3 linked regions of the Homo sapiens genome follow. The protein of the gene in region 1 purifies or fractionates together with the protein of each later gene. This does not show direct contact. Each region holds a gene or a part of one and is shown in the gene's direction. Other genes may lie near its edges. The genes, in order: TIGD7, UACA and PRMT8.

Region 1 (8,841 bases):
AATATTGCAGAGTTGAGTAAGAAGTCTTTGTCCTTAAGCAATCTCTTGAAAGGACTGAGCAATTTCGTGAATATCAGTAACACAAGGGTAAGAATAGGACATAAACTGAATGCTGTGAGAACTCCAAGAAAATCCAAGTTGATTTGGGGTTGGGGGAAATTATAAAAGACCTTGAGGGATTTTGTCCACAGCAGGGAATGGAGACACTTTCCAGGCAGAGGGAAGGGTAGGAGTAAAGGCTTTAAAAGCTGGAAACATTAGACTGTGAGATCTTAGGTACGTTTTTACTGAGTTGGGCTGCATTTAGAGGAAGAGTTTTAAAAGTTAGAAAACGAGTTTATGTGGCACTTATACTGGAGTCCTTTGAATGGGAATGAAAAGAGTGCATTTAAGAAAGTAAATCCTGGCCGGGCGCGGTGGCTTACGCCTGTAATCCCAGCACTTTGGGAGGCCGAGGCGGGCGGATCATGAGGTCAGGAGATCGAGACCATCCTGGCTAACATGGTGAAACCCCGTCTCTACTAAAAAATACAAAAAAAAATTAGCCGGGCGTGGTGGTGGGCGCCTGTAGTCCCAGCTACTCGGGAGGCTGAGGCAGGAGAATGGCGTGAACCCGGGAGGCGGAGCTTGCAGTGAGCCGAGTTCACGCCACTGCATTCCAGCCTGGGCGACAGAGCGAGACTCCGTCGCAAAAAACAAAACAAAACAATACAAAAAAGTAAATCCTGGAGCACCATTTGAGCGTTTTGGACTGAGCTGCTTTCTATGGCAGTTCATCTAAGGTAAGTTTAAGGTGAGAATGAAGATGAGAGGCCATTACCAGGCCATTATGCTATTTTTGCTTTTGGATGGGATGGTATGTAACTCCTCTTAGGCATAGATCTTGATCCTTTTTAAGTGAGAGAGAAAGATAAACAGATTTAATAATGAGCATCTGCCTAAGTCACTTGAATTTGTGTCTAAGTAGGTTCATTTCCTTAAAATCTCAGCCAGGTTGGGACTTCATTTCTTCAGCAGTAAATATTCTCAGTCTATCAGAACCAGTGGACAGTAGCGCCATCAGCATTAAGATTCTCATCACCTGGCCCAATGCTGAATATATAATTAGAATTTATTAAGTTGAATAAGTGAAGTTCTGCTAGCAGTGCTAAGCAGTGCCCTTGGATATCATTGACAGGCCTGATTCATAACACAGGAAGTTGGTTAAAGGGAAAAGGGATTCATGGGAAAAAGAGGCAGCAAGGCACAAATTGTGAATAGTGAATAAGAGGCACTGGTGATTTTCATTGTGTGAGGTTTGCTGCCATAGTGGCTTATCCTTTGAAGCCCACAAACATTCCTTGAGCCTTTCCTTTTGGTTTCACCTCCCCTTGCTTGGGCACTGTTTTAGAAATGATGACTGTGGCTGGGCGCAGTGGCTTACACCTGTAATCCCAGCACTTTGGGAGGCCTAGGTGGGTGGATCACTTGAGGTCAGGAGTTCGAGACCAGCCTGGCCAACATGGCAAAACCTTGTCTGTACTAAAAATATAAAAATTAGCGGGGCATGGTGGTGCGTGCCTGTAATCCCAGCTACTTAGGAGGCTGAGGCACGAGAATGGCCTGAACCCTGGAGGCAGAGGTTGCAGTGAGCCGAGATTGTGTCACTGCACTCCAGCCTGGGCGACAGAACCAGACCCCATCTCAAAAAAAAAAAAAAAAAAAAAAGACGACGGCACAGCTGAGAAGCATTGAAAGCAAATACATTAATTCTGAGACACCTACACAACTGTCATAGTGGCCTGAATATTTTTGCTAGGTGACTAGCTTGAGTTAATGGTGCTGCTATTGGCTAGCAAATACTTTTTTATTTTTCTATTTATAAGTGAAAGAGATAAACCAAGATTTATGTCTGAGTTATCACTTACTAACTGCCTTAATTATAGTTGCCTCATTTAGAAAGTTGCTTGATCGTAGCCTGCCATTGGCTCCACCCCCTAATTACTACCATATTCTCTTGTAATCTTCTCCATGCTCTATAACTCATAGTTGGCATTTCTTGCAATGAATGTTACAGGAAAACCAGTGGTCTGACTCTTCTGGGTTTTTAGATGAGAGACCTAAGAGAATTCTATGGGCCAGGTGTGGTGGCTCACGCCTGTAATCCCAGCACTTTGGGAGGCTGAGGCGGGCGGATCATGAGTTCAGAAGTTCGAGACCAGCCTGGCCAACATAGTGAAATCCTCTTTACCAAAAAAATACAAAAATTAGCCGGGTGTGGTGGCACACACCTGTAGTCCCAGCTACTCAGGAAGCTGAGGCAGGAGAATTGCTTGAACCCGGGAGGCAGAGGTTGTAGTGAGCCGAGATGGCGGCATCGCACTCCAGCCTGGGTGACAGAGCAAGACTCTGTCTCAAAAAAAAAAAGAGAGAGAATTCTATGTAGTTGAGGAATGAATGGGCCAGTCAGATTCTGCCCTAAAGAAGAGGAAGAATAACTGAGATACCAGCCATTTCCCTTATTTCTCTGACATACTTTTCTTTCTTCGTAGCACCTGGAATGGATAAAAGTGGCAGTTTTTGTTTCTTCCCATGAGGTTGTGTATCTGGACTGAGAACCAGGAAATTAATCTAGACTAAGACATTTCTAAGGACCTGGAATGGCTTTGGGGAGCACCAGGAGGACCCGAAAAGAGTATTTGAGGGCCTAGAGGGACAGAAGAGTTTGCCAGTAGGATTTATGAGAAACAATTGATCAGAAACAGCAGCAGAGAAACCTTTTAGATTTCTTCTGTGGAAAAGTTGAGTCTTGGTTCAAATTAAGTAAAATAAACACTGAAGAGAAATCAAAATCTCAAATATAAAAAGTATGTTACTTATAGTGTAAATTTAGGAAAACAAATGAAAGGACAGATCTTTAAAAATTTTTAACTATGGTGAAATATTTGTAAAACTTTTGGGCTCATCTCTGAGAATTGCTGTGATTCTGAAACTTGATAATATCTCAAATAGAGAACAGTTTCAGTGAAAAATAGCACTTGAGAATAAATCAGATGTTCCCAAGAAAGAAGATCTGAGAATGGTAAAGTGCCACTGACAAATAAATTATTTACATACTTACATATTACCTTGGCAAACACAAGAGACATTCAAGTTAAAGCACGGTGCTTGACAATACTATATTGAATGCAATAAAAGTTGGATTTCATTCATATGTACAACAAACTACTTTCTTCTTCACTTCAAGATTCGGTACAACTGTTCCTGAATTCCAACTCTCCATACATCCCAATGTCAGGGTCCCTGTAGCTCGGAGCCCTTATCCAGGTAGATGAACTGCTGCCCAGTGAACACTATGTACAAAGCAATTTGAGCACCATTCTCTTTTCTGGCAGTGAGGTAAAATCAGGTCTTTTTGGAAGGGGAGAAGCCACATTGCATCTCTGCTACACACAAGATTACTCTGTCATTGCCTTTGAGTCTTTCACGCTCCCTTCTTCTGAAGCATCAGTTTTTATGGAAACTTATCACACCTGTCTTGTGGGCACATCTTGCTCCATCCCTCCTCTCTTCATATTGTCCGTTTTCCGGTATTGAGTTAGGGAAAGTATGCAGGTATTCCTGTCATTCCTGACTGAGGCTGTTGTATCTGTCAAAAGAGAGGAGAGGTAGGGGGCATTCTGAAAAATGATCACTCATGGCTTGCAGGAGCAAGAGCCAGACAGGACTTTGCAACTGGCAGCTTTCTGAGTGCATAAGACCTCCACCTCTAGACTAGCTCTTCAGTCATGGTTAGCCCCTTCAGTCCATTATCCTCCAATACAATGCCCATGCCTTCTGGGGCTTTCAGCTAAGTTTTGTTTAAAAAATGTGGGTTTTTTTTTTGCCAATTCATTAAGGCTTTTCCCTTTGTTTTCTCCTGTTGGTGGTTCAGAGTTAAATTCAGTATGAATAAGAGAGGGAAATATACAACACTGAATTTGGAGGAGAAAATGAAGGTTCTAAGTAGAATTGAAGCTGGACGATCACTTAAAAGTGTAATGGATGAATTTGGAATCAGTAAGTCAACATTTTATGACATTAAAAAAAATAAGAAGTTAATTCTGGACTTTGTACTGAAGCAGGACATGCCATTAGTAGGGGCTGAGAAGAGAAAGAGGACAACGGGAGCCAAATATGGTGATGTAGATGATGCGGTCTACATGTGGTACCAACAGAAACGCTCAGCCGGTGTTCCGGTAAGAGGCGTGGAGCTTCAGGCTGCTGCAGAGAGATTTGCACGGTGTTTTGGGCGAACAGATTTCAAAGCTAGCACTGGTTGGCTTTTTAGATTTCGAAATCGGCATGCAATTGGGAACCGAAAAGGATGTGGGGAACAAGTCCTAAGTTCAGTTTCTGAAAATGTTGAGCCATTTCGACAAAAACTGTCCATGATAATCAAAGAGGAGAAACTGTGTCTAGCTCAGCTATACAGTGGGGATGAAACAGACCTCTTTTGGAAGTCAATGCCAGAAAATTCTCAGGCAAGTAGGAAAGATATCTGCCTACCAGGGAAGAAAATAAACAAAGAAAGGTTGTCTGCCTTTTTATGTGCAAATGCAGACGGAACTCATAAATTAAAGTCAATCATTATTGGAAAATCAAAACTGCCCAAAAGTGTGAAAGAGGACACAAGTACATTGCCTGTGATATATAAACCCAGTAAAGATGTTTGGTTCACCAGAGAATTGTTTTCAGAATGGTTTTTTCAAAACTTTGTTCCTGAGGTCCGACATTTTCAACTTAATGTTCTAAGATTTCATGACGAGGACGTCAGGGCATTGTTACTTCTGGACAGTTGCCCGGCTCATCCTTCCTCTGAATCCCTAACCAGTGAGGATGGTCGAATAAAATGTATGTTCTTCCCCCATAACACTTCAACCTTGATTCAACCAATGAATCAAGGTGTGATCTTGAGCTGCAAACGGCTGTATAGATGGAAGCAACTTGAAGAGAGTCTTGTAATATTTGAAGAAAGTGATGATGAGCAAGAGAAAGGAGATAAAGGAGTTTCCAAAATTAAAATCTACAATATAAAAAGTGCAATTTTTAACTGGGCAAAAAGTTGGGAAGAAGTAAAACAAATAACCATAGCAAATGCATGGGAAAATCTTCTTTACAAAAAGGAACCTGAATATGATTTTCAAGGCTTAGAACATGGGGATTATAGAGAAATTCTTGAAAAATGTGGGGAGTTGGAAACTAAGTTGGATGATGATAGGGTGTGGTTAAATGGAGATGAAGAAAAGGGTTGTCTCCTAAAAACCAAAGGTGGAATAACAAAGGAAGTTGTTCAAAAAGGAGGAGAAGCTGAGAAGCAGACTGCTGAATTTAAATTATCTGCTGTAAGAGAGAGTTTGGACTACCTTCTTGACTTTGTTGATGCCACACCTGAGTTTCAGAGATTCCACTTCACACTGAAAGAGATGCAACAAGAAATAGTCAAGAAACAGTTCCAGAGTAAAATCCATTCTAGAATTGGTAGCTTTTTGAAACCTAGGCCTCATAATATTAAGGACTCCTTCAGTGGGCCTTCAACTTCTGGTTCTAATCATTAGATTTTGTGTTTAAAGATTTCTGCCATTATATGATGTAGGCCAGCTGTGAATTGTCTTGTTTTAGCAACTGACATTATTTTGTATATCAGTGCCCATTTATATAATGGTTATAAAATTTACAGTTTGAAAATAATACATTTGTGTTTCTTTAAATTTATTTAAATTTGTGTTTCATAAATTCATTTTTTTAAATTTTACACAAGGATCTGAATAATGAAGTATTGTCCCAGATTATCTAAGGTGGAATGCCTTTGCGAAAAGCATTAGTTTGTAATCATATCGTATAACAAAGAAACTGTGCTGACTAGTTCTAGTTAGCTTTAAGATAAGGATAAATTAGGTTTTCAATTTAATGGTAAAACACACTCTGCTTTCTTAACTCTGTTACTACCTATTTAGTGTTTGTTTTCCTCTTACTGTGAAAGTAACATGCTGATTATAGGGAATATATAAAAAAAGATAAAAAGCACTCAATTCTATTGACTAATGATAACCTCAACACTTCGGTGTATACCATATATTTTTTAAATAGGCAGATTACATTGTAAATAAAACCTTATCTCTTACTGTCTTAACATATTTTATGGTTTGTTACTAATACGTTAGCATTTATTGAGTATATAGGATCGTATATATATGTTAGTCTTCATAATAATGACTTCCCTTTTCAAATACATAAGGAAACAGATTTAGAGAGATTAAGTAACTCGACAAAGGTCACATAAACTGGTAAACAGCAGAGGTGAGACTTAAATTCTGTTTAATGCCAAAGCTCAGGCTTTTAACCATCATACGGCACTATTTCTGAGAGTTTCCCTTAGGTCATTAAAATCTCTTAACCTCACATTTGATGGTTTTTTAATACTCCACCAGGGGATGTAACGTATCAGTTGAACTACCAGGTCAAATAGAATGAACTTTTGAAAAAGCTGCGATACACGCTGTTAAATTGCTTTCACATTCCCACCATTATTTTGAAAGTACTTCTCCCAATGCACCAATCCCAACATTGAATATTGTTAAGCTCTTAGTTTTTGCTAATTTTGTAACCAAAAGAATGGTATCTTTATGGTTGTTCCCTATTTAATATAAGGTGTCAGGTGAGTTGATATTTGCAAATAACAAGCTTTGTTTGGATAATTAGCTCTTATTGGCTTTCAGTGTTTCCTTTCTCATATATTATCTTCAAGAATCTGTTTCTGGCCGGGCGCGGTGGCTCACGGCTGTAATCCCAGCACTTTGGGAGGCCGAGGAGGGCAGATCACGAGGTCAGGAGATCGAGACCATCTTGGCTAACATGGTGAAACCCCGTTTCTACTAAAAATACAAAAAATTAGCCGGGCGCAGTGGCAGGCGCCTGTAGTCCCAGCTACTCGGGAGGCTGAGACAGGAAAATGGCGTGAACCTGGGAGGCGGAGCTTGCAGTGAGCCGAGATCGCGCCACTGCACTCCAGCCTGGGCGACAGAGCGAGACTCCGTCTCAAAAAAAAAAAAAAAAAAAAAAAAAAGAATCTGTTTCTGAGATGGGTATTCTGTTACACTGGTGAATACTAGGCAATTATAGTATAAAATTAGTGACTAAATACAGAACTACTGGGGTCCACTCTTGCTCTAGTACCTTGCCATTTTCATTACTGGCTAATATGAATTTCTCTTTTTTTTTTTTTTTTTGAGATGGAGTCTCGCTGTATCACCCAAGCTGGAGTGCAGTGGCACGATCTTGGCTCGCTGCAACCTCCACCTCCCAGGTTCAAGCAATTCTGCCTCAGCCTCCTGAGTAGCTGGGATTACAGGCGCGTGCCACCACACCTGACTTGTATTTTTAGTAGAGACGAGGTTTCACCATGTTTCTCAGGTTGGTCTTGAACTCCTGACCTCGTGATCCGCCTGCCTCAGCCTCCCAAAGTGCTGCGATTACGGGTGTGAGCCACTGCGCCCGGCCTGTGAATTTTAATGAAAAGCAAATGCCCACTTTCCATGTTTGAAAATATACAAGCTATTCTTACTATCTTAAGTCAACTTCAGCATAAAATTTATTCAAGCCTCCTCCAGACACCAACTCCCTCTGCGAATTTATTCCTAATTTAAGTAAAATTGGAAAGAATTTACATTACTTTTCTCTCCTTTCAAATTGTAAGTGCAGTTTTCATTTAATGGAGTTCTCATTTTTTTTATTGTTCCTAGGTAGGTTTGTTGTTGCTGTAAGTGGGTTCCTTTTTTATTAGTAGTGATTGCTGATATTTTCACCTTGTAAATTCAGTAGTTATCTTTTTTGTGCCTTATTTATTACCCAGAACTTGTAGAAAAAATATATCAACATTGCCACTGGGCATCCTTTTTACATTCAGTTTAGGCTTGATTTGTGCTTTCTTGCCTTATTCAGTCTGCAGCCTGGTGGAAGATGGGAGACCTTTAACATCAAGCAGCTTGACTTTTTCTTTTTTTAAGATTAGTCCATAATGACTGCAAGCTGGGGTTGGGTGAGGGCGAAGGTAGTAATTACTCTTTGCTTGATGTTTTGCCTCTTTTGAAAGACCTTCCAAGCCTGGGACAGGATGGATTGTGGAAGTGGAGGGGGATGGCAGATGAGGACTCTGGGCAGCTCTCTAGTTCCTTTTAGTTTGGGTCTTTGCATCAAACATCATCATTCTTTTTAGTGATAATAAATTCCTAGAGTGACCGAGAGTCACCCCAGTTTTCAAAAGTACTCATTGATTCTGGAAACTTCCTGTTAACTGTTTCATGTACTAGACAATAGCATGTTGTTGGAGATTCAGCTCTGAATAACCAAGAAAATGAATGAGAACAAACCACCATGGGATGTGTAAGGGCCGGAGCCAAAGTGAGCATAGGGAGGGCCTTTGAGACTTGGATAGCAGGGGAGGTGTCTGAGAGGACAGTGCGTGACTTTTGAGCTGGGTTTAAAGTTGTGAAGCAGGGGCTCAGTCTCTGCGGTGGGCACGTGTATCTCCCAGGCAAGCTGCAAGGTCCCTGGACCGTTGCCTTGGGGGCCTCTGGCGGAGAAGAGCAGGAAAGACAGGTCAAGGCTAGTGTCCCTGGGGGACATCCTACGAGATTTTAGACGGGTCTCGGCCCACGTAAGTCTTGACCGCTCCACCTCCTGGATCTCTCCTCTCCACTCTTCGTCCTCACTGCCCTGCCCTGGTCCAGGCTCCCTTCGCCTTCTGCGTTGACTCTGCCTCTTCAGTTGCCCTGCCTTCCTTTTCTGTCCCCTCTCCATTCTTGCCCGACCCTTATTCTCTTA
Region 2 (11,718 bases), on another chromosome or scaffold:
GAAATCTTGAGAAACAGCCTGACCGCAGATGTTGTGATTTAGATAATTTGTCACGTTACAAGAATGGCGATATCATCAAAATTCTATATCATTAAAATAAGTGCCACTTACAAAGTCTTGGAAGAGTCGAACGTAAAGGAGTTGTTATGCTCCAACTGCACAGTTACCTAGTTGGGGTAATTAAAATGAACCTTTACAATTCAACGCAGATTTTACCAAATGATTATATTCTTTTTATCAGAATACTAATTAATCTGCTTCTGCTTTTTTGAGTTAATTCAGTTATGCCTTTCTCTCCACCTATATCGAGGATTATTTTACTTGGACATAAAGGAAATTGTGGAGGAACTACCTAGACTTAAATTCCTATTTCAAAAAAAGAGAGTAGATTCAGATGACGTAATTGATGTTCTTTGATAAAGCATGAAGTCGTTTTATAAGCTCATGGAAAACAGAGATTACTTTGTTTCACTTTTTTTTTTAAAAAAAGTAACTGGCAGAAATGTCATTTAGTGATATTGGAGTTCATTACAGTTAAGATTCTACTTCTGTAATGCAAGTTGTGTTTTTAGCCTTATAGAAGATACAAGTTTCTAGATTTATTAGCTTTGTTTTCCCTGGTTGTGTTTGATTTGCACTAAGGATGTAAATCCCACTTGGAGGTTTATATGCCTTAATTTTATCCAGTTTTCTAGAAATGCAGAGTATTTAGTAGGTATTATCAGCATGATAGTTTGCATTTTATACATTTGGAACATAAAGTGCATATCTCTGAGCTTAAATCTTTAGCACTCAATTGAGCGTTCTATTTTTCTCAAAATGACATAATAAAGATAAACATGATATTAACCTATTTATGTAGAAAAAGCAAACATTTCTGTTTAAATATTAGAATAAGTTCTGTACAATTTAAAAATAAAAGCGTAATGAGGAATAAAACTTAGAATGAATTCTGTAAAATTTTAAAATAAAACTGTAGTGATGAATAAAACCAAACCAAGCATTGATAGAATAAAACACATGTACAGGAGAAATAGACCCTTTCTGCTTTTCAATCTATAAACCATAATCCCAGATTTGGTCACATGTATATGTATTTATTGTATGATTGGGCCACCCTTTTTTTTTTTCTTTTTGCCTTTAAAAACAGTTATTTTTTGAATAGGTAATATAGCACATGGTTTAATATTGGAAAGGAATAAAAATATTTACAACAAAATATCGACACCGTGTTTCCCTAACCCCTGCTTCAGCCACCCTGCCCCCACTTCCTGAGGCCACTGATGATACAGTTGCTTGCATGTTCCTCCAGAGAGAGCTTAGCATATACAAGCAAATATGAATATAGTCACCCTTTATAGAAATGCTAGCACACTGTAGCTGCTGTTTCATATCTTGGACTTTTTTTTTTAAAACTGTAAATAGAGGCTCCCCATTCATATCTTTTGCTGTAATGTACAATTCTGTGATTAATATTCATATTTCAAGTGTGTGTCTGTACCTGTAGGATTAATTCCTAAAAGTGAATTGCTGGGTTAAAGGATATGTGCATTTGTAATTTTGAAGGATGTTGTCAAGTTTCCTTTCATGCATCATGGAACCAGCATATGAGAAATGTTTTCCAAGCTTTTAATAGAAGTCTGTTCAAAGTTTTTGACCTTTGCTAGCCTGATAGGTAAGAACAGTTTATCCTTTCCATTTTTCTTTTTCTGTTTTTTTTTTTTTTTTGAGACGGAGTCTCGCTCGGTCGCCAGGCTGGAGTGCAATGGGACCATCTTGGCTCATTGCAACCTCCGCCTCCCAGGTTCAAGTGATTCTCCTGCCTCAGCCTCCTGAGTAGCTGGGACTACAGGCGTGCACCACCACGCCAGGCTAATTTTTGTATTTTTAGTAGAGACAGGGTTTCACCATGTTGTCCAGGATGGTCTCAATCTCTTGACCTTGTGATCCACCCGCCTCGGCCTCCCAAAGTGCTGGGATTACAGGCGTGAGCCACTGCGCCTGGCCTGTCCTTTCCATTTTTCTATTGGGTTGTCGATATTTTTCCCTATTCATTTGTATATACTTTATATCAGGGAAATTAGCCCTTTTCATTTGAATAATATTATTTCTTAATTGGCTGTTTGTCTTAAGACATTTTTATGGTGGCATTTGCTGTGCAGAGAAGGTGGTTATTTTTATACAATTGAATTTATAACCTTTTATGATTTTTAGGTTTATGTAATATCTTGGCCTTTCCACTCTGCGATATTTAATATTAAACAACCCCCCTCCCCAACTTTCTTCTAGTTTTTTTTCTTTTTTTACATTTAAGTCTTTGATACATAAGATACTTATTATGGTGTTAAAGTACATCTTACTTTCTTCTCTTTCCTCTATGGGTACTTAATTTGGGTCTTAAACTGTTCATTTAATTATTTTGGAAATAGTCACTATTTACTTTGCACAACTTTGATTTGAGATAAAATTTTAAAATGTTTATTTCATAAATAATTTCCTTTGTGTATTTAAGCTTATTATCTGAAGAAGACACAGCAGTAGACTGAGGTATGTGACATATGCAGTATTTTATTACATAATATGTGGAATACAGCATATTAGCTTAGCATGCTAAATTAGAATTATGTGCAGATTATGGGCAAAAGTAGTAATTTTGAATATTCTGAATAGTACTATTGTTATAAATATGCCAATGAATTTAGAGTTTACTAAATGGGAATGTTTGTACACATATAAATGTAGTTCACAATTACAAATTCTGGATAAACTACATTTGTGGATTAGTCCTTTACTAGCAAATCTGGAGATGGCTGCATCTGTTAACCATAAATGAAGAGTGTTTTTATTGTTACATTTATTATTTATTTATTTATTTTTCGAGATGGAGTTTCACTCTTGTTGCCCAGGCTGCAGTGCAATGACGTGATCTCGGCTCACTGCAACCTCCGCCTCCCAGGTTCAAGCAATTCTCCTGCCTCAGCCTCCCAAGTAGCTGGGATTACAGGCATTTGCCACCATGCCCGGCTCATTTTGTATTTTTAGTAGAGAGGTGGTTTCACCACATTGGCCAGGCTGTTCTCAAACTTCTGACCTCAGGTGATCCGCCCACCTTGGCCTCCCAAAGTGCTGGGATTACAAGCATCAGCCACCGTGCCCAGCCTGTTACATTTATTTTTAATCACTTACTAAGTTGGAGCTTCGGATTTCTAAAAGGGATAATTAGATGACTATAAATACTGTACCAGATCTGGTTAATTGTGTGTTCAGTTATATGTATAGTGAGAATATGCTTGTTCCATTTTCACCTAGTTTAGGAAATTTAATATAAATTAAGGGACTGTAATTCCAGAAGTAGTAGAAGTGCTGCAAACAGATATTGTAAGCAGACATTTTAGAAGGGGATTCCACTTTAAATTGGATTGCTTGAGCCCAGGAGTTCGAGACCCGCCTGGGCAACGTGGTGAAATCCTATCTCCACAAAAAATACAAGATTAGCCCGACGTGATGGTGCATGCCTGTGGTCCTAGCTGCCTGGGAGGCTGAGGTGAGGGGATCACTTGGGCCCAGGAGGTCAAGGCTGCAGTGAACTGTGACTCCAGCCTGGGTGATAGAGGGAAACCCTGTCTCCAAAAACAAACAAACAAAGTCGTAGCAGAGTACTTTGATTGTAGAAGTAATCTCTGACCTGAGAGGTTCTGTAGTGATTATTTTTGCTGCCCTTTCTCTAGGCTGCTCTTAAAATGGGGCAGTGAATTTTATAAATCAGAACTAAATATGTTTTAAAGCATCTTGCTATAATGCCTCAGCACTGCGAAAAAATACTGGTATTTCTAAAAGAATTTAGAGTTACAAATATAGCAACTGAAAAAAATCTTCAAAAACATTTTCTGTTTCCACTAATAACATTAGTTTGAGATGTTTAGAAAGCATAAAGGATTAAACATGATTTTGTTTTAGTTGTTGATTTTGAGAATGAGGGCTTTGTGTTTTCCACTGAGGGATTTGGGTGCATTTGAAAAGATCTTAATGTTATTCTCATAACAGCGACTTTTGGGTAATGTAAATAAGATAACAAATTGTTATGTTTAGTTTAAACTCATGATACTTAAGCACTGTTTACTCATTGTCATTAACTATTCCAACCTTAAATTAAAAATGCTTACCTTAATTAAAGCTGTATTCAGACAACTTCCTATGGTTATCCCTGCGTTGAATTTCTTGTGCTTCTTGAAGGAGGATTACAATAAAGAAACCCTTCTTTTATAGTTTTTGATTTCAACCCTCACCCTGCAGCAAGTTTATTCAGAACATTATGTTGATTTGAATTGCTGAATTTTATTGTAATACCAAAGCAGAGTGGTTTGGTGGGTCTTTTGGTGCATAATGAGTCCAGGAACTTTAGGTGATGAGTAAAGGATTTTAATTAGTTTTTTAATAAGGATGGTGTAATGATTATATATACTTATGGTACATCATATGCATTGTTCAAATTAAAAATGATTAGTTCAGGAAGTAGACTTTGCTCAGCAGTTGCCTTATTTAGTTTGGAAAACATTTATGGAACACATAGGCTCAATAATGGATTAATTAGGTCCTCTTCGAAGAAATGGATAATTCCAAGTTGAAAGCAGAAAGTGTGGAGGATGAACTTGGAGTGCCCTTGTCATGCTGGAGTGTAAAGAGGCTGTCAAAGATTAGGACTCTGGAGCCAACTCCAAGAGGCTCTCAGTTGCCCAAAGATGGGACAGTTTGATCATCAGTAAGAATAGCAACTGTAGTGCACTGAAATCCTTAAATCCATGAGTTTGTAATGATGACCAAAAGAATAAAAACAACTCTTGACTTTTGGAGGATGCTAGGAAAGTGATGCATTCTTTCAAGATCAGGAAAATAAAGGGAAATAATAAAACATTTATTGTGCATTTCCTGTGAGAACTGTATCTCAAGGTAGCCAAATAGCTGATAAGAGGAAGTGTCTGTTTTAGTTATACTTTACTGCCACTAATAGATGAAGAAGGGATGATGTAATTAGTATATCATGTATTCTGTCCCAGCTAATATATGAAGAAGGGGTGATAGAGTTAGTATATCATAACTTTACAGCTCCTAATGAATTAATGAATCTAGAGTCTATAGACATGATTGTCAGAGGCTACTAATGTCTCAAAAAGAAAGACAAGCTGGCATAATATATCTTGTGGTGGAAATACTTATTACCACCTATTAATAGTCTTGCCAAAATAATCACCCTTTAGCTATAACCATGATTTTGTTTATTGTCATACAATAATTTTGATTATTGTCATACAGGGAACAAAGGAAGATAGGGATGCAATCAGCAAAATTCTGATTGTGGAAATCTATGGAAAAATGAAATGGTTTCTTAAAAATTATAAATTGTAAGAAAAGGAAAAAGAGGAGAAACCTATGGATTACAAGAGATTTAAGAGATTAAAATGCATACTAGCCAATTGCCGTGATGGACTTTATTTAGATCCTGATTAACTACTTGTAAAAAGTAAAAGTTTATGAAACAATCGAGGAAATATAATCATCAGCTGGATACTTGATGATATCGAATTATTTGAAACATTTAAATGTGACAGTGGTAGTAATGTGGCTGTGTTTATAAAGAGTCTTTATCCTTCATTTTATTTTTTGGAGATGAAGTCTCACTCTGTTGCCCCAGCTGGAGTGCAGTGGTGTGATCTCTGCTCACTGCAACCTCCGCCTCCCGGGTTCAAGTGATTCTCCTGGCTCAGCCTACCGAGTAGTTGGGATTACAGCTGCCCGCCACCATGCCTGGCTAATTTTTGTATTTTTGGTAGAGACAGGGTTTTGCCATGTTGGCCAGGCTGGTGTTGAACTCCTGACCTCAGGTGATCCACCTGCCTTGGCCTCCCAACGTGCTGGGATTACAGGCATGAGCCACCTCGCCCAGCTGAGTCTTTATCTTTCAAAGAAATATTTTGGAGTCTGGGATTTCCTTCAAAATAATCTTTGGGTGGGTGGGGATAGTAAGTTGGGGGTATAGTTGCAATAGGATTGGTCTTGAGTTAGTAACTGCATTTGGGGCTGGGTACAGTGGCTCATGCCTGTAATCTCAGCACTTTGGGAGGCCGAGGTGGGCAGATCGCTTGAGGTCAGGAGTTCGAGACCAGCCTGGCCAACATGGTAAAACCTTGTCTCTACTAAAAGTACAAAAATTAGCTGGGCATGGTCATTTGTAGTCTCAGCTACTAGGGAGGCTGAGGCAGGAGAATTGCTTGAACCTGGGAGGCGGAGGTTGCAGTGAGCTGAGATCATGCCATTGCACTCCAGCCTGGGCAACAGAGCAAGACTCCATCAAAAAAAAAAAAATTGCGGCTGGGTGGTTCATGATGCTTATTCACTTTTGTGATACTGTTGTATTTAGCGTATGTCCTAAAATTTCTGTACTGTAATTAGAAAGAGCTAGTCACAGCCTTCAAGAATTTTAAGAGCTAGATATAAAAAATAAATGAATATGGCATGTTAACAGTTATTATAGAAGTCGGTATAAATTGCTGTGGGGGCACATAGAGTGTAGAGTGAGCCCATAAAAAGGTTGAAAGGTAGAGTGTGAGCTTGGGCCAGAAAGACAATTTCAGTGGCTTTCCAAGCAAAAGAAGAGCAAATGCAGTGGTATGGAGCTGTGAAATTATACAGCTGAGGGAGCATCAGATTTGGAAACTAATTCTGGTTTTATGGTAGAGGATGGCACAGATGAGGCATAGACAAATCTTCAAATAAGAATTCTATTGAAAATAGGGAGTTAGAGGGCGTGCAGCTTGGGGATTGTGGTAAAGGAAGGTTTTCATTCATTCTTTTTTTTTTTTATTTTTGAGAATAAGTCTCCCTCTTGTCGCTCAGGCTGGAGTGCAGTGGCGCAATCTTGGCCCACTGCAACCTCTGCCTCTCGGGTTCAAGAGATTCTCTTGCCTCAGCCTCCCGAGTAGCTGGTACTACAGGCTCCTGTCACCATGCCTGGCTAAGTTTTGTGTTTTTAGTAGAGATGGGGTTTCACCATGTTTGCCAGGCTGGTCTTGTACTCCTGACCTCGGGCGATCCACCCACCTCGGCCTCCCTAATTGTTGAGATTATAGGCGTGAGCCACTGCCCCCGGCCTCATTCTTTTTTTTTTTTAAACCTTGAATTAAAATTTAAATTACTTGACAAGTTTAGATCACTGTTCAGAGAGAACTGACTAGTCATGAAAGTTTCATCTTCAGAAATTATCCTATTAGTGAGTTTATAAGTTCATCTTTCTGCTTCTCCCTTCCTCTCTAGAATTAGCTAATAGCCAGCAAAATTTTGATTTTATCAGCCCTGTTTAACTTATGTTTGTATCTTTGGTAAACTAGATCCAAGAATAATAGATTTGAACGTTATAACATGTATTGTTTCATCACTATCATATGGAAACTTTTACTGTCCTGTTACAGTTTTGCAAATGTTTGTCCTGCCACCTAAAGGATACAGCATATTATTGAAATTTCCACCTGCACGTGCTTATTTATGCAAAGGAAGTCAAATTGATTTCTGTGGGGAATTTGCCTAAAAATGGATGGTTGAAATGTGCTGCCTGAAATTATAAATGGAACAATAGGATATAATACTCATTGCCTTATTTTCCTTAATCATAATACAATTAAAAGCTTTATATAGCTTTTATATCATTAGAAAAGATAATGTCTCTTCCAGGCTTAAAAATGTAGCCCCAAAACACAAGAATAAATTGGATTGTTTGTAGTCACACAAACAGTTTTGTCTGTTGGCTTTGTTTTATTGTCAGAAATCCTAAATATTGTTGACATTGACTTATTTTCAAATGATACAGTCTCCAAGATGATATGCAGAAGATGAACTGATGTAGCTGAGTGACCAAAGGCACTGGCAAAGGATCGATGAGTTGTATTTTTATACAGATGCTCCTTGACTTATTATGGGGTTATGTCTTGGTAAACCCAGTTTAAGTTGAAAATATTGTAAGTCGAAATGCATTTAAGACACCTAACCTACACAACATCATAGCTTAGCCTAACCTTCTTTAAACATGCTCAGAACACTTAGCCTCCAGTTGGGCAAAATCATCTAACACAAAGCCTATTTTATAAGAAAGTATTGAATATCTCATGAATTCAATACCGAATACTCTATTGAAAGTGAAAAAACAGAATAGTTGTACGGGTACTCAAAGTACATACAGTTTCTGCTGAATGCATGTAGCTTTTGTACTGTTGTAAAGTCAAAAAATCCTAAGTCTAACCATCATAAGTTGGGGACTGTCTGTAATTGAATGGGACCTGGCCAGGTATCCTTGAGAGAGCGCAGGTGAATGTCTCAACCAGTTAGGATAAATGACTGTCCCACAAAAGTCATACATGTTCATTGTAGAAAACCAAATATAGGCTGGGCGTAGTGGCTCACGCCTGTAATCCCAACACTTTGGAAGGCCGAGGTGGGCGGATCACTTGAGGTCAGGAGTTCGAAACCAGCCTGGGCAACATGATGAAACCCTGTCTCCACTAAAAATACAAAAATTAGCCAGGCATGGTGGTGGGCACCTGTAGTCTCAGCTACTCGGGAGGCTGAGGCAGGACAATGGCGTGAACCTGGGAGGCGGAATTTGCATTGAGCCGAGATCGCGCCACTGCACTCCAGCCTGGGCGATGGAGCGAGGCTCTGTCTCAACAGCAACAAAAAAAATTATAAGTAATTTGAAATTATTTGAGCACATACAAATGTCCCAATTAGAAGTACTCAGTAAATGCTAGTGAGTTACTTAGAAAGAAACTGCTTGTGAGAAATCCATGTGCTGATAGCCAAGATTTATTGAGCATGTATTTCCCAGGCATTGTTCTAAGTGCTAGTAACTCAATCCTCACCGCAACCCTAAGAAGTAGGTACTATTGCCATCATTTCAGATGCAAGTTAAATAATTTACCTGCCCAAGACACTATAGCTAATAAGTGAAGAGTTAGGTAGCCTGGCTTTGGAACCCATGTCCTTACCATTGTGAACTGATGTTTCAAATTTAATGCTATGGGATTTACACCTTAAGCCATATATACAAAAAAATTGGAGAAGGGGAGAGAGGAGGCATTTTATGGGAAATTCCAAAACCAATCTGTGTTCCCTCCAGAGATATGTGGAATTGTTGCATTCCTGATATCCTTCCAATAATAGATTCTGTTATTTAAAACATTTTTAAATGTGATAGAAAAAAATAGTTTGGCTTAATCCATGTTTTTGATTTCCAGGGAGGGTGAACATATTTCTGTGCTTATTGGCTGCGTTCATTTCTTGTTTTAGGAATTGTTCATTTTCTTTGACCATTTTTTCTGCTGATGCCCTGTTCATGTTGATCTGTAAGAGCTTTATACGTCCTTATTTTTGCTACTTGGCCAGCCGTCGCTTTAGAGTAATGTCTGTCTCACTATAGCTGTGCTTCTGTTACCTTCCCTGATATTTAAAACAGTTTTTGTTTCATGTATTTAATTTTGTGATAATTGATACATTAAGGTTCTTGGCTATTTTATATTCATTGTAGAGTGTAACTTGTCGTATAAAAGCCTCTAATTTGTTGCATTATAACTTTTGTTTTGAATTCTACATTGTTAGATATTAATACTGTCACACTGCCCCTTCTGTCATTTTGCTTTGTATGCATGTATACTTACCCAGTATATTATACTGTCATCCTTGGTTTTATTTGGAGGGGTGTGTGTGTGTGTATCTACAACTGTGTACACTTTTGAGGAGATGATGCGTTTTTAATATTGACCATATTTATATATTGTCAAGGTTTTTTATATTACCTCTGTAGTAAGGTTTTCCCTTGCAGATGCACAAATCATTTTAAAAAAAAAATCTCATTGACTCTTGTTTAATTTTCTTCTTACCAGATTGTGACATTTTCTCTTTACTAGAGAGAGACATTCCAAGAGAGCTCTAGAGAGAGAGAGAGATAAGTGGTGGGGGGGAGGGGAGAGAGAACAAGAACACATATAATACATCATGCTTTCTACACTTTTAAAAAAGTAGGAGTGTTTAACTTTTCTTCCAGCATGCTGTTATTTCATATGGTTTTCGCATTAGCAGGGTGCCTACTTTGTGCAGATGTTGAGGTACTTTGAAAATGAGTCCCAGTGGGGAGGCCCTGTGGGTGTGGTTGTAGTAAAGCCAGTACACTCTGATCTTTTCAGCTGTGTATAAGAATAGCCCACAAACACTTCCTGATTTACACGTGAGAAGTTTTTTTTTTTTTTTTTTTTTGATGGAGTTTTGCTCTCGTTGCCCCAGGCTGGAGTGCAATGGCGTGATCTTGGCTCGCCGCAACCTCTGCCTCCCGGGTTCAAGCGATTCTCCTGCCTCAGCCTCCCGAGTAGCTGGGATTATGGGCACGCGCCACCACACCCAGCTAATTTTTTGCATTTTTAGTAGAGATAGGGTTTCTCCATGTTGGTCAGGCCTGTCGTGAACTCCTGACCTCAGGTGATCTGCCCGCCTCGGCCTCCCAAAGTGCTGGCTCCCACAGGCGTGAGCCACTGTGCCCGGCCATGTTAGAGGTTTTTAAATGACAAATCCTTTTTAAATGATTCTTCTCTTTGTTTTTTTTTAAAAATTAACATTTTATATTTTAAAAAAGCACTTTATGAAATATAAATAGCATTCATGGCCATGTATAAGTAGGTAAACAAGGAAAATGAAGTGTTTCTCAGTCTTAGAAAAGACAATTGTGGGCCAGAGAATGTCCATTCATAGCTCTTGAAATCATACCTGGAGCAGCATGAAGGTGCAGGTTAGCACATTGATGATACAGGGTCAAACTCTGCAGCCTGCACGTCTTGGGTGTGAGCCTTGCCACTCCTGGTAACCAGCTTTGTGACCTTAGGCAAGTTACTTAAATATGTTTGTTTCTTCATTTGGAAAATAGGATTAATCGTTATACTTATTTCATAGAGTAGTTGTGAGCATTAAATGATACAAGGCATATTAAGGGCTTGCATATTAATACGGTGCTTTATATAGGTAACTCAATACATGTTTATATTGCTAACTGAAAAGTCTTACCAGAGGTCATGCCATTGTTGTCCTTTATAACCAGATTGACAGCAATCTTCCTAATCTTTTCCTTTCCAATTAATAGGCTTTTATATAGCCTAGATCTTCAAAAGTCCACCTGCTTTAGCCCTTTTCCTGAGGGAGATAAGTGGTATCTCTATTTTTCAATTATGAAAAAAATTTATTGAGCACTTGGGCTAAGCACTGCAGGGTGAGAGGATGAGGAAGATAAGAAGAGGCTCATAGTTTTGTGGGGGAGCTCCATGAGCAGATAATATAAGGTAATAAGTGCTGTGATAGAGGACTGTACAAGGTACTGATCTAGTCTGGGGCAGAAGAGTGGGGAGTCATTGAGGGTTTTTTTTGTAGGATAAGCTGCTGCTGCTGCTGTCTTTTAAAAATTGAGATGAGATTGTCAAAACATAAAATAAGTCATATTAAAGTGAACGATTCAATGACATTTAATACATTCACATTGTTGTATAACCACCATCTCTACGTACTTCCAAAACATTTTCATCACTCTAGAAGAAAATTCTGTATCCATTAAGCAACTGCTTTCCACCTACTCTTCTCTAGCTCCTGAGACACCAATCTGCAGGGTGACCTTTTTTTTTGAGACCGGACCTTGCT
Region 3 (11,718 bases), on another chromosome or scaffold:
CAGTACTTTGTCATCTTCTCCCTTAGGATGCCATGGCGGTGGGGCCTTGTAAACGTCCTTGTTGAAGTCCCACATGATATACTGCAAGCATGGGCTCTGGAATCAGACTTTCTGGCTCACACCCAGCTCTGCCAGAATTAGGCTGTGCTCTTGGATGACTTAGTTTATGTGCCTTAGTTTCCTCATCTATGAGACAGGAATTAGTGGTCATACATTCCAGGGCCATTGTGGGGATCGCATAGTTGCTGTTTGTATAACTGTGGCACTCTGGAGTCAGCACCTTACAGGATCCTGAGAGCTGACTGTGAAAGTTTCAGTAAATTTGCAGAATGGATGCCATCATTGGCCATGGTGGAAGTATCTATACCACAGAATTCAGCAAAGGCGACAAACCAGGGCTTCTATCTCCTGGAGAGCCGGTTGTTAAGTATCTCCAGCACACCACTGTATAAAACACAACAGCATCCGGTGGGCACTAAGCAACCAATAAACATTAGCGGTTGTTATGATTATTCCGTTTATTAACTTGACTAATAACCATATCAAAAAAAGAAATGAGACCAATCATATGTAATTATTTTTAATGAGCCTGTAGTAGTGACTGCTGGCAACTGCTACTTCCTTCCCTAACAGCTCGAGAAACAACCCATTAATAATCTTCAAAGTGAGTTTCATGTATTCATCCTTTCGAGTATTATTGAGCCACGTACTAGGTCCTGTGTCGGGCATAGGGGAGTTCGTGGTGTGACTAGCACAGACAACATCTTTGCTCTCATAAAGCTTACAGTCTCGGGGGAAGACAGACATGAAGGCAAGCGAACAAACAAAATCACAACATCATCACAAACTGTGAACGTGCTTAGAAAAAAACAGCATGGAATAATTGAGAAAATGGGGATGTGTTTTTTCCAATTGGGTGGTTGCAGGGGCATGCTGGCTGTCACACACTGCCTGCCAAGAGCCAATTGCGTGCGCTCATCTCTTCTCAACTCTGCCTTGAATGACATCATCTGTGTCGTTAGCTTGAAATTGGCTATGGTGGAAGTATTTACACCACGGACATTGGCGGATGCTACAAACCGGAGCTGTTTTGTTTTCCCTTCTGGAGACCTAAAGGTGAAGATGGGGCCATGCTGAGAGCAGTGGGAAGAGCGTTTTACCTGCCTGTATACATTCCCTCAGGTGGGAGATACTTTCTGTCCCATGGAAGCTTCTGCTGCAGGGAGAGAGTGAAACCATTCCAGATAGAGAAACTTGGAATGGTTTTCTGAATACCTGAGCCCTGGGGAAGCTTTGGTTGCCCTTTACATTCCCATTGATTTCAACCACTCTACCCAGTACCAGTGCCTTCTTGATAACCCCTGCTCCCCTTTGGCCAAGCCCACATGATCATCTGCTTGTGGCCATGGTGCTGGGTATCTGCCAGGCTGGACCACAGGTGGGGTTCTAAGTGGTGGGTGATGATCTCGGGTGGGAAGAGTCCTGGTATTGTTCTGATTCACTGAGTACTCCAGCCACTGCCTAAGGGAGGAGAGAAACCAGGCAGGGTCTCTGGCCAGGGAATGGCTCTGGCAAAGCTAGCAGGGCTTTAGAGCTCCAGCCAAGCACGTTGGGCCCTGAGCCCTCAAGAGAGCCAGAGCGGGCTAGAACATGAAGCCAAGCAGATTACACAGTGAGGACAAAGCAGACCCTCGAGTCCTATGTTCTCGGGTGAGTGGGGGATTTGGGCAGGGAGAGGGGTACTATATTGTGGAAGCGACCACCCTGAGGCTTCATGACACCGGGGGCTCCCTTATGCCACTGCAGCAATAGGGTCAGTTTGCTGCAGGACATAGTCCCAGTCCCACCATTCATGGAGGGTAGAGATATCGACATCCTTTTTCCCATCACTCCTGACCAGCCGCAGGAGAAGGGTAGGTTAGTCCTTTGCCTTCTCTGATTTCTTTTCTCTCAACATCCCAAGCAGTTGCTCCATGTCCACAAGAATCCCAGGTGGTAGGGAGGTCAGATATACACCCATTTGCCGGGTGAGGAAAGGAACCACGGAGAGGCACAAACATGCACAACAGGCCTAGGTTCAGCCCCCACAACTTGACTTCTCTAAACTCCAGTTCACTCCTTAGGCAAAAATAATAATAAAACCAAGCACACAAGTTCCTAGGAGGATTACTGAAGTAACATACGGAAAATCACTCTGCAAGCTGCTATTCAAATGCTAGTAATTTTTTACTGTCACAATTAGGACTAGTTTGAATATCTTTTGTCTCTTAACCCAATGCCCCCCACCTTTTTTCCTTCAACATTGCTCATTCATCCATCCATTCATTGAGTAATGATTCTGAATGTTTGTGAGGAGTCAAATGCTCCGCTATATCCTGGAAATAGGAAGCTAAAATAGACAACGAAGAGAAGGAATGCATACGCTGGAGGTGAGCCGGGCCCTCCGCAGGTGCAAGGCAGCCAGCATGGGTGTCACCAAAATAGGTGTATGAGCAAGGACCAAGGGAGTGGGGAGGGCGAGCGAAGGGCTTTGCTGCAGTGGGGTTGGCAGGGGGGTCAGGGGGCTTCATAGGCTCATAATATGTTCCCATGCCTGTGACCCTCATGCCTCCTCTTGTGTGGCACAGGACCTGCTCTCTGAAAGAGTGAGGACCTAAAAATGATCACTAACTTCAGATCCTACGGGCATCAGCTGACCCTGATGGATGCACTGGAGGCTCAAATGAGGTTGAGCTGGCCTGATTTGTTTAAAAACAAAAATGACCATTAATGAGAATGACTAGATTTCTGTAAGAACCACTCAAACCAAAAAGAAAAAATTCCACTCAAAACCATTTTTAAAAATCTGGATGTCTCACTTACAAACTTGAAGCTACAGGAGAAGTTTTCCCAATTTAGAGTCTATTGCTCCCTGCTGTGCATTTAGTTCTGATTAATCATTCTGTAATTTACCAGCCAGAGTCCTGTCATAGTTCGTTGAACAAACTTTCCATCATCCTTCTGGAATAAAAACATGGATCCGGACGGTGACCTCAGTGCAACCTTGAGTTGATGCAGTTTTAGTGACTTGGGGTCCAGATTGGGCATGGAGCTCTGCAGCCTACGGCTGCTCGGAATCTTAATATCAATAGCTTAGACCCCCTTGAAAATCCTTTGCATGGAGGAGAAGGGAAGACTGCTGCTGTGTGTGCCCACACACTTCCTTGAGCCAGCCTAATGCCCTATGTTGGCCAATAGCCCCTAGTAAGTTGGCATATGCCCCACCATGACAGGTAGCATTTTGTAGATTGGAAAATTGAATCTGGAAGTTTAAGTGGTTGCTGGTGGTGACTACAGACTGCAGGAAGAATATTCATGGTGATTCAGCTGGACAGTTGTATTTGGCTGCACAGAAAGAATGTGACCTCTTAAAAATAAAAAATAAAAGGACCCAGGAAGTGTTGAAAATGACAGTCAAACTGGAACTTGGAGGCACCATCTTTTTTTATTGATGCCAGCTGTCTCCACCAGTGAATCTTGCAGAATGCCTTACACATAACAAGTGCTCAGTACACATTTGAAGAACCGCAGCTTTCTGGCACTGCAAAGAATTTCAGATTCAACCTCCCTTCTTTTTTTTTTTCCTAATGAGGAAAATAAAAGAGAGGAGATGTTTGATTGAGATTAGCTGTCACCTGGAACAAGAGCGTAAGTTGCTGCCTTTTAGGATTCCAGCATAAAGTTGTGCAGGTTGAGCACAAAAGCACCGGAGAAAGGGGATAAATGGAGTCTAAAAGCCAGTCCAGCACTGGATTGAAGGGAGATGGGTCCTTTTCCTTTGACAAAGGGCTCATCTCCTCACCAAGCCAACTGTGGGGCCATGTCCACACTGAGAAATGTCTGCACTTGAATAGATGTAGAAGGGTGATGTTAAGAGAACAGAAGTCCAGACTGTTGAGGATTTTATAGGGTTAACTGATTCCTTCTGCCTTTTTGCAAGCAGAGATTGTGATTTTTGCTATTCTGTGACCCCCTATATCTAGCTATCATCTATCTGTCTTCTATATCGTCTGTCTATCTATCAATCATCTCTTGTAATCCATATTGATGAGGTTACAGCAACTAATTGATAAGAGGGCTAACACAGAGAACATGAGCAGCAGTAACTCTCTTTGGGGGACACCTGAGGAATATTTCATACATACCTGTTTGTTAGACTTGATGATGGATTACTCCTTGTCTGTTTCCTGCAGCTCCTAATAGAGTCCTGTCCACAAAAATTGTCATGGGTGGAGCCTTGTACTAAACACTCAGGGTAGAGGTCATGAGGCCCCGGAGGCAGGAGAAAACATCTTCTAGGGCTACAGAGAGGTCATGATATAAATGCAGGAGGAGGAACTGACCCATAGCCACACAGACACAGGCAGACATTAGGGAAGAACCTTCAAGAAACGTGCAAAGAAAAAAAAGTAAGGGAGGCCATTAAAGACAATTTTTAAGTTTACAAAACTAAGGCAAGCCAGGCTTTGCATGCAAATGATTAGGCAGGTGAGTCATGCATATATTTGTCAGTTCTCTTTCAAAATAAGAAATAAATTAGGCACAATGTTTGCATTTTAAAAAATCCTTTACTTTGCCACTCTATGAATTTTCTTAGTGCACCCTGGGCCCTGCTCTCAGTTGAGTTCCTGCCCTGGGGTCTCTGAGACCCAGAGAAACTTCAACACCTACCCCTCCCACTCCCACCAAAACTTTTGGAGAATAGCTCTTCCTGCTCATACTTTTTAATGGTAGGGGCTTTTGAGCAGTAACCAGTCAGGAGGGCCACCCAAGACTGAACCTCACTGTAGAGTGACCAGGGTCAATGCATGTGTACAAAGTGTCTTACTCCTTGTAGAGCAGGCTGTATCCAATTAAAGCTTGATTAAATACCACATAGTGGAGAGTAAACTGTTATTAGAAGCTGCTAATGGACACTCCATCACCTGCATTATTCACTGTGAAGAAACTAAATAAAGCCAGCAAACGGTGTGCTCTTTGCCATCCAGGAGCCTCAGTCCAAATTAATTTTCATGAAACTCAGATTCTAGGCAGATGTGGTTCTTTTGATTTTTACTCCTAAGTACAGGCCATTGTTTGTTTTTCCCAGCAAAGCTCAGGCATTGTGTGAGTTTTTTTCAGAGGATATTGCAGAATGAGAGTTTCAGAGCATGAATATATGTAACCTTTCAAAGGAAATGTTCAGAAAGAACAAACCAACCAATACATCAGCCTGCCAATTTAACAGTGGTATCTAAACTAGCTTGCTCAGATCTTTACAGCAACAAATACAAAAAGGGACTCCAAAATTATGTGTATGTCTATGTCAGTTTATCAAAAACTCAACTAAGAAGTGTCTCCTCCCACAGAGGAAACTGAAGTTCTTGAAGGTGACTCATAAGAAGAAGCCACTGGGGACAGGGGCTTTGACCCTGGCCCTATCTGCTTCCCCTCTCCATCTGTGGATCAACAAGCAGGAATATGTCAGATAATGTCCACCTTCTGTTGAGCTTTAGCTATGGGCCTGGCACTCCACATGTGTTATTTCATTTGATCAATACAATCACCCTCTAAATTGATATTGCTTTTCATGGTTGTTCACTTGGGAATTGGAGTTTAGTTAGGTCAAGTAACTTGTCTAAAGTCGTACAGCTAATGGTGAGAAGATCTGGCACTTAAACCTAGGTTTCCCTGACTGCAGAGCCCATGCTCTCATCAAAATATCAATTTCCTCCCTCACAAACACTAGAAGGGCACCCATTTGGTATTGAGCCTGGCTGTGAACAAATGCAAAAGCAATAGAGGAGGCATCTATGCTTTCTTTGAGTTTGAATTGTCATGGTAACCTAACATAGGGGTGGGGGCCTTGAGAAGAGTTTTAGAGTCATGTCATATCAGATCTGGGCTCTGTTTCCACTGCTGCTACTCAACCTCTCTAAGCCTCGGTTTCCTTAGTTGTAAACAAAAATAACAGTTGACCCCGACTACCACAGGGGTTAGGGGTGCCAATCCCCCACACAGTTGAAAATCCAAGCATAATTTTTGACTCCCACAAAAGTAAGCTACTATCAGCCTACTGTTGACCAGCAGTCTTGCTGATAACTTGGTCAATTAACACACATTGGCTGGCTGTGGTGGCTCATGCCTGTAATCCCAGCACTTTGGGAGGCCGAGGCGGGTAGATCACCTGAGGTCAGGAGTTTGAGACCACTCTGGCCAACATGGTGAAACCCCGTCTCTACTAAAAATACAAAATTAGCCGGGCGTGGTGGCACATGCCTGTAATCCCAGCTACTTGGAGGCTGAGGCAGGAGAATCGCTTGAACCTGGGAGGCGGAGGTTGTGGTGAGCAGAGATCACGCCACTGCACTCCAGCCTGGGCAACAAGAGTGAAACTCCGTCTCAAAAAAAAAAAAAAAATTAACACATATCTGGTATATGTATTATATACTATATTCTTACCATAAAGTAATCCAGAGAAAAGGAAATTGTTAAGAAAATCCTAAGGAAGAGGAAATATATTTACCACTCACTGAGTGGAGTGGATCAGCATGAAGGTCTCTGTCCTCATTGCCTTCACATGGAATAGGCTGAGGAGGAGGGAGAGGAAGGGCTGGCCTTGCTGTCTCAGGGGTGGCTGGAAGAGGTGGAAGGGGAGGCAGGCACACTTGGTGTAAATAAAAAAAAAAAATCTGCGTGTTCGTGGACCTGTGCAGTTCAAAGCCAGGTTGTTAAGGGTCAGTTGTAATGTGCTTACCTCACAGGGCTGTTGGAAGGATGACGTGATACCACGCATATAACGGGCTTAGCGCTATGCCAGGCACATAGTAATGGCTCAATTTATTTTACAGGGAAAACATGCAGGTAGTTTTCAATTATGTTGGTATAAACTAGTTTGGTAAAGGGTGAGCTACATCATATCCTAAAAGTAGAATCAGAATAGGGCTGAAACCTGGAGATCTGGCCCTGAAGTGAGGTGCTTGTGGTTCCTGGGTGGGGTCCCTGCAAAGTATGGCCCTGGGGTTCTTATTTTCCAGTCATCACCATATTTAAGGGTAAAGTGGAAGAGGTGGAGCTGCCTGTGGAGAAGGTGGACATCATCATCAGCGAGTGGATGGGCTACTGTCTGTTCTATGAGTCCATGCTCAACACGGTGATCTTTGCCAGGGACAAGTGGCTGGTAAGTGTCCTGCATGCTGTCCCCGCGTTGGCCGGCTGGCTGTCCTGCTCCTCTACCCAAGGCCTGCAGCCTAGGAGGCATACGAAGACTTCAGAGAAGACTGAGGCCAGGAGGTCACTGCCCCAAGCCCCTCTCTCTAGAGCAGATCTGTATCAGGGAACAGAATGGTTGCCCCGGGTCCAGCATGTGTAACCATCAGAGTGGACTTCCGTGGGTCTCACCGCAGCCTCTTTTGCAATAACAGACATCCGTTCTCTCTTGTCGAGTTAAAGGTCCGTTTCGGTCAGCAAGTACTTAGGACTTGCATGGCTGCCAGAGCCAGGTGTGCTATTCATCTGGGCTTCTCCAGGCCAAAGTCGTAACATCTCTCACTGCTCCTCACTGGATTTACCTTCACCTCACCTCATTTGTCCTATTGACTCCACCTAGGTCCCTTAAATTTTCCTTGCTCCAAAATAAAAATTGAGCACTGCTGTCCTAGCCCTCACCCCAGACAAGGTGACAGTCCACTGCATGAGAGATGGTGGCAAGGGGGTGCTTGTCTGGTGACTCTATGTGCAGTTCAAAATGTGATGTCTTTGTCAGGTGAATAGATTACGAGACCCATTTCCCCACAATTCATCAACAGAAACCTGGAGGGCTTATGTTTCCAGACCGGGCAGCTTTGTACGTGGTAGCGATTGAAGACAGACAGTACAAGGACTTCAAAATCCACTGTAAGTCCCCTCTTGCTTCTCCGGTGGACTTCCACTGCACAATTGGGGTGGGAGGCACTCCAGTGGGCCCGAGATGAGCAGGCAGTGACATGAACACCATTGCTGTCCCTGAAGAGGAGCTTATCTGGGACCCTTTCTGGAGTCTGCTCTCTAAATGTTTCTATCTAGTCCCAAGGGTGTTAGGTCTACAGACAGAAAATAAGCCATATGGCTGGGATGAGAGAAATGTCCTGGGGTGAAAGAATGAATGCAATGTGAATTAAAAATTGGACTGAGGCAGCAGAAGCTGAGTTTTTGCAGAGATCAGCAGGGCAAGTGGCTTGAAACCTGTCAAGGTTCAGTTAGCCCAAAAGTCCACCGCAGGGGTCTGAAGTAGCAGGTCTCTTGCCAGGCCAATTGTTTTGAATCCTGCCTCCATTCCATTCAAACTTATCAAAATAATATTGATTCTCTTATGCAAATACATATTATTTGAGGTTCTTTTGAGGAATAGATAGCAGAGGGGGTGGGAAAGAGTGGAGATTTTGCTTTGAACAATCAAACGAAAGGCGAGTGTGCATGTGTGCATGAGGCAGGGGCTCGTATCTAAACATGTATTCTTAATGCCTTATCAGCTAGGCGTGTGTGGTTCTCTGAGAACAATAAAGCCAAAAAACTTCTCCTCCCCCGCAATGTTTTACCTGGTCTGAAAAGGGCTGTTATCCTATTTCTCGTAAAGGGTGACACTTCTCTGTGACACAGGCCTGATCCTTAATGAGATTATACCAAACATGTTTTTGTAAAGTTGAACATGGCTGTGTCTCCTCAACCAGAACCAAATACAACAAAGGAGCAAAGAACCCCTCAAACAGGCAAACACCCAAAAATCCAAATTAAAGCAAGAGGCAGAAGCTCCAACCTATCCATCAGACTGGGCACATCTGCGGTTCCTGCCCCAACAGGGTGGTCCATTCCTACTTGGCAAGATTACTGTGGAGGGGTTCACAGATTGAGTAGAAGAATAAATGCCTCCAAGAGGCTAAGACTCCATCCACAGTTCAACAAATTGTGGCTCTGTGGATTTAAACAATTGCCATCTAATCGTCGTTAGTGGCACTGATGAAAACTCGGCTGGACTCTGCTATGGATGTGTGTATTTGTGTGGGTTCATGCCTTTCTGGAAATATAAACTCAAAGTGTGAAGTTCAGAGCCAGGTTCAGAAGAAGACAAAAGTGGGACAGCTGTTTGAAGCTCTGTGCCCTGGAAACCGTCTCTGGTTGCTGTCTGCCTCCAGCCAATCTGGTGTGATTTCCACTATTTGACCTCCTGGGGGAAGGAGGCAAAATACCAAATGAGGACAGTGAGAGGCAGGGGGGCCCAGGTTAAATGCTTTGCACACTGCCAGCCCTGGGTTTAAATCTTGGCTTTGCCATGTCCTAACTGGGTAACCTTGAGCAAATTATCTAATACCTTTGGGCCTCAGTTAAGGGATAATTTTCTCAATCCCACAGACTTGTCATGAGGATTAAGTGAGATGACATATATTAAAGGACGTGACAGTTCTTGGTCCTATAATGGGACTAGATGGGAACTAGTTTCTGACTGTGTAGCTAAGCCCCTTTCTGCCCCTGGCTCTGGCAAGTGAGCCTGACTGCCAAGCCCCTGGTGGCTCAGAATCTAGGACAGATGTACTCTCATGGAAGATTGCAGACACAACTCCACAGTGAGTGTTGATCAAATGCATGTATAAATAGGACATATTTTGCCCTGGAGCTGCATTTTGGAGTTCTTGCTGTGCAATTGTACTGAATAGTGTTTTGAGGAGGAAAGCTTCTAGGTACATTCTTCATTGTCAAGTTCACTTAGATATTTATTGAGCTCCAACCCGAGGCACACCTCTTTAAGAAACTTTCTCATGGTTTCCACAACAAAGATACCTGTGTCAGGAGCCTTTGCAGGTATGCACATTGCAATGAGCCAGCCTGGGGCAGGGAGGGGCTCCTAAGGCACTGGCCCCAGACTGGAGATCATGTGATTTCTTTGATTCTCATTGCAGTGTTCATACCTTTTGGAAAAGGAAAAAAAAAAATCTGAAAGTTAGCACCATGTTATCTTGTGCTTGTTCTAGAGTCTCTGAAAAATACCCCAACCTCCTCCCCACCCCAAAAGAACACCAAGAAACAGACACTTAAAATGTATTTAAAATACATTTTCTATTTACATTTTTGAAAATAATCTATTTTTTTGTAAAGGAAGCAAACCCACTTAGAAATTCATTTCAAATAAATGGAGACTTTGGTTACTATGAGTTCTAAATCAGAAGTAAAGCACAAAGGTTGCTGGTTGCTAAGGCAACAATTGTAAGCAATTTTCTATTGGCTCAAGAACCAGCTAAGAAGGAAAAATTTTGAAATGAGGCAGGAGAGTGAGACATGTTCAGCCCCTTTCAGAAAGTAAGTTGTTAGAGGGAGAGCTTTCTTTCCTTTCCTCTCCTTTCCTTTTCTTTTATTTCCTTCCCTCTCCTTCCCTTCCCTCCCCTCCTTTCTTCTTCTTTCTCAACCACACACAGCAACATGGGAGTGCAAGAATGAGGTCAGTGCAGAACCTGCCCTCCATTTGCTCACCAATGAATAGAGACCACATAGAGACAGAGATAAATATCTGGCATATACTAGGCTCACAATACATAATTTTAACGAAGGAAGGAAGGAAGGAAGGAAAGTGAACCAGCAGAGGGATGTGCAAGGTGTAGTATTTAACTCTTAGAGAGGAGCAATCATTTTACACACATTTTCTACTATAAAGGAAATACACAGAATTTCAAAAATGGAAGGAAACTCGGTGGATGTTCTATTCAATTTCATGCACAACCCATGAATTGTACCCAGTGCATGAATCTACACCCTGCTGAGAATGAGAGAGATGGGCACCAGTTTCTTGGCTGATGAGAAGACTGAAAGAAAGACCTCATGCAGAGGTGGCAGTGCTTATAGCTTGATGGTTGAAGGGCGGCCCTCTTGGATGGCTCAGCTGCTGTCTGTGGGCTTCACTTCCACTCATGACATCCAGAGTTTCCTCTGGTTCCAGCCCATTTTATGCAAGGATTCCACTTTCTTCATGAGAGCCTAAAATGTGTCAATCTAGTGTAAACACTTTCCCTTCTGCACAGAGGAGAATCTGTAAGTAGCATCTGGTGGCACTTGTTCTATTTTTCTCTGACCTCATTCTGAGGCAGTCCCATTAGCCTCATCAGAGAAACTCAGATGGTTGGGGCTGGGGTGGTGAGGGAGGATGTAGCTACAGCTCTCTGCAATCAGAAATCACATTTCTCCCCTGGTACTTAATTTTCTTTCCTCAGACTGTTTTTGAGATTTCTGTCTTTATTGATTTTCTGCAGTTTGATTCTGATGTGTCTAGGTGTGTTTTTCTTTTTATTTATCCTGCTTGGGGTTACATGGAATTCTTGGAACTGTGGATGGATTGTTTCGTTAGTTTAGAAAAATTTCAGCCAGTATCTCTACAAATATTTTTTTCTGCCTGATTATCTTTCTCCCCTTCTTCAGGAACTCCCATTATATGAAATAATGTTTGATATTGTCCTATGGAGCTTGGATCCTCTATTTTTTTCACCCCTTTTTTCTCTTTGTGTTTAAGTTTGGATCATTTTTATTGCCCCGTTTTCAACTTTATTGGTTATTCCCTGATATATTCATTCTGTTAATAAGTTCATTTTAAAAAGTCTTCTTTCCTTATATTGTTATTTCGATTTCTAACATTTCCACTGGCTTTTTTAAAAAGTTTCCATCTCGCTAATGAAATTCTCC

Evidence for each region.
Region 2: the proteins of TIGD7 (region 1) and UACA purify together in Homo sapiens (affinity purification with mass spectrometry; 3 studies listed by BioGRID and IntAct, with this or other methods). This does not show direct contact.
Region 3: the proteins of TIGD7 (region 1) and PRMT8 purify together in Homo sapiens (affinity purification with mass spectrometry; 2 studies listed by BioGRID and IntAct, with this or other methods). This does not show direct contact.

Annotation. Positions count from the first base shown.
Region 1 is NC_000016.10:3,295,700-3,304,540, reverse strand, and holds the end of TIGD7 (tigger transposable element-derived protein 7), read left to right. Parts: intron 1-2,531; 5' UTR 2,532-3,926; coding exon 3,927-5,576; 3' UTR 5,577-5,733; downstream 5,734-8,841. Other genes in the region: ZNF263 (zinc finger protein 263), read right to left, coding at 5,431-5,435.
Region 2 is NC_000015.10:70,750,816-70,762,533, reverse strand, and holds part of UACA (uveal autoantigen with coiled-coil domains and ankyrin repeats), read left to right. Parts: intron 1-11,718. UniProt on the Homo sapiens protein: Regulates APAF1 expression and plays an important role in the regulation of stress-induced apoptosis. Promotes apoptosis by regulating three pathways, apoptosome up-regulation, LGALS3/galectin-3 down-regulation and NF-kappa-B inactivation.
Region 3 is NC_000012.12:3,561,651-3,573,368, forward strand, and holds part of PRMT8 (protein arginine N-methyltransferase 8), read left to right. Parts: intron 1-7,055; coding exon 7,056-7,198; intron 7,199-7,783; coding exon of another isoform or gene 7,784-7,826; coding exon 7,827-7,914; intron 7,915-11,718. UniProt on the Homo sapiens protein: S-adenosyl-L-methionine-dependent and membrane-associated arginine methyltransferase that can both catalyze the formation of omega-N monomethylarginine (MMA) and asymmetrical dimethylarginine (aDMA) in proteins such as NIFK, myelin basic protein, histone H4, H2A and H2A/H2B dimer.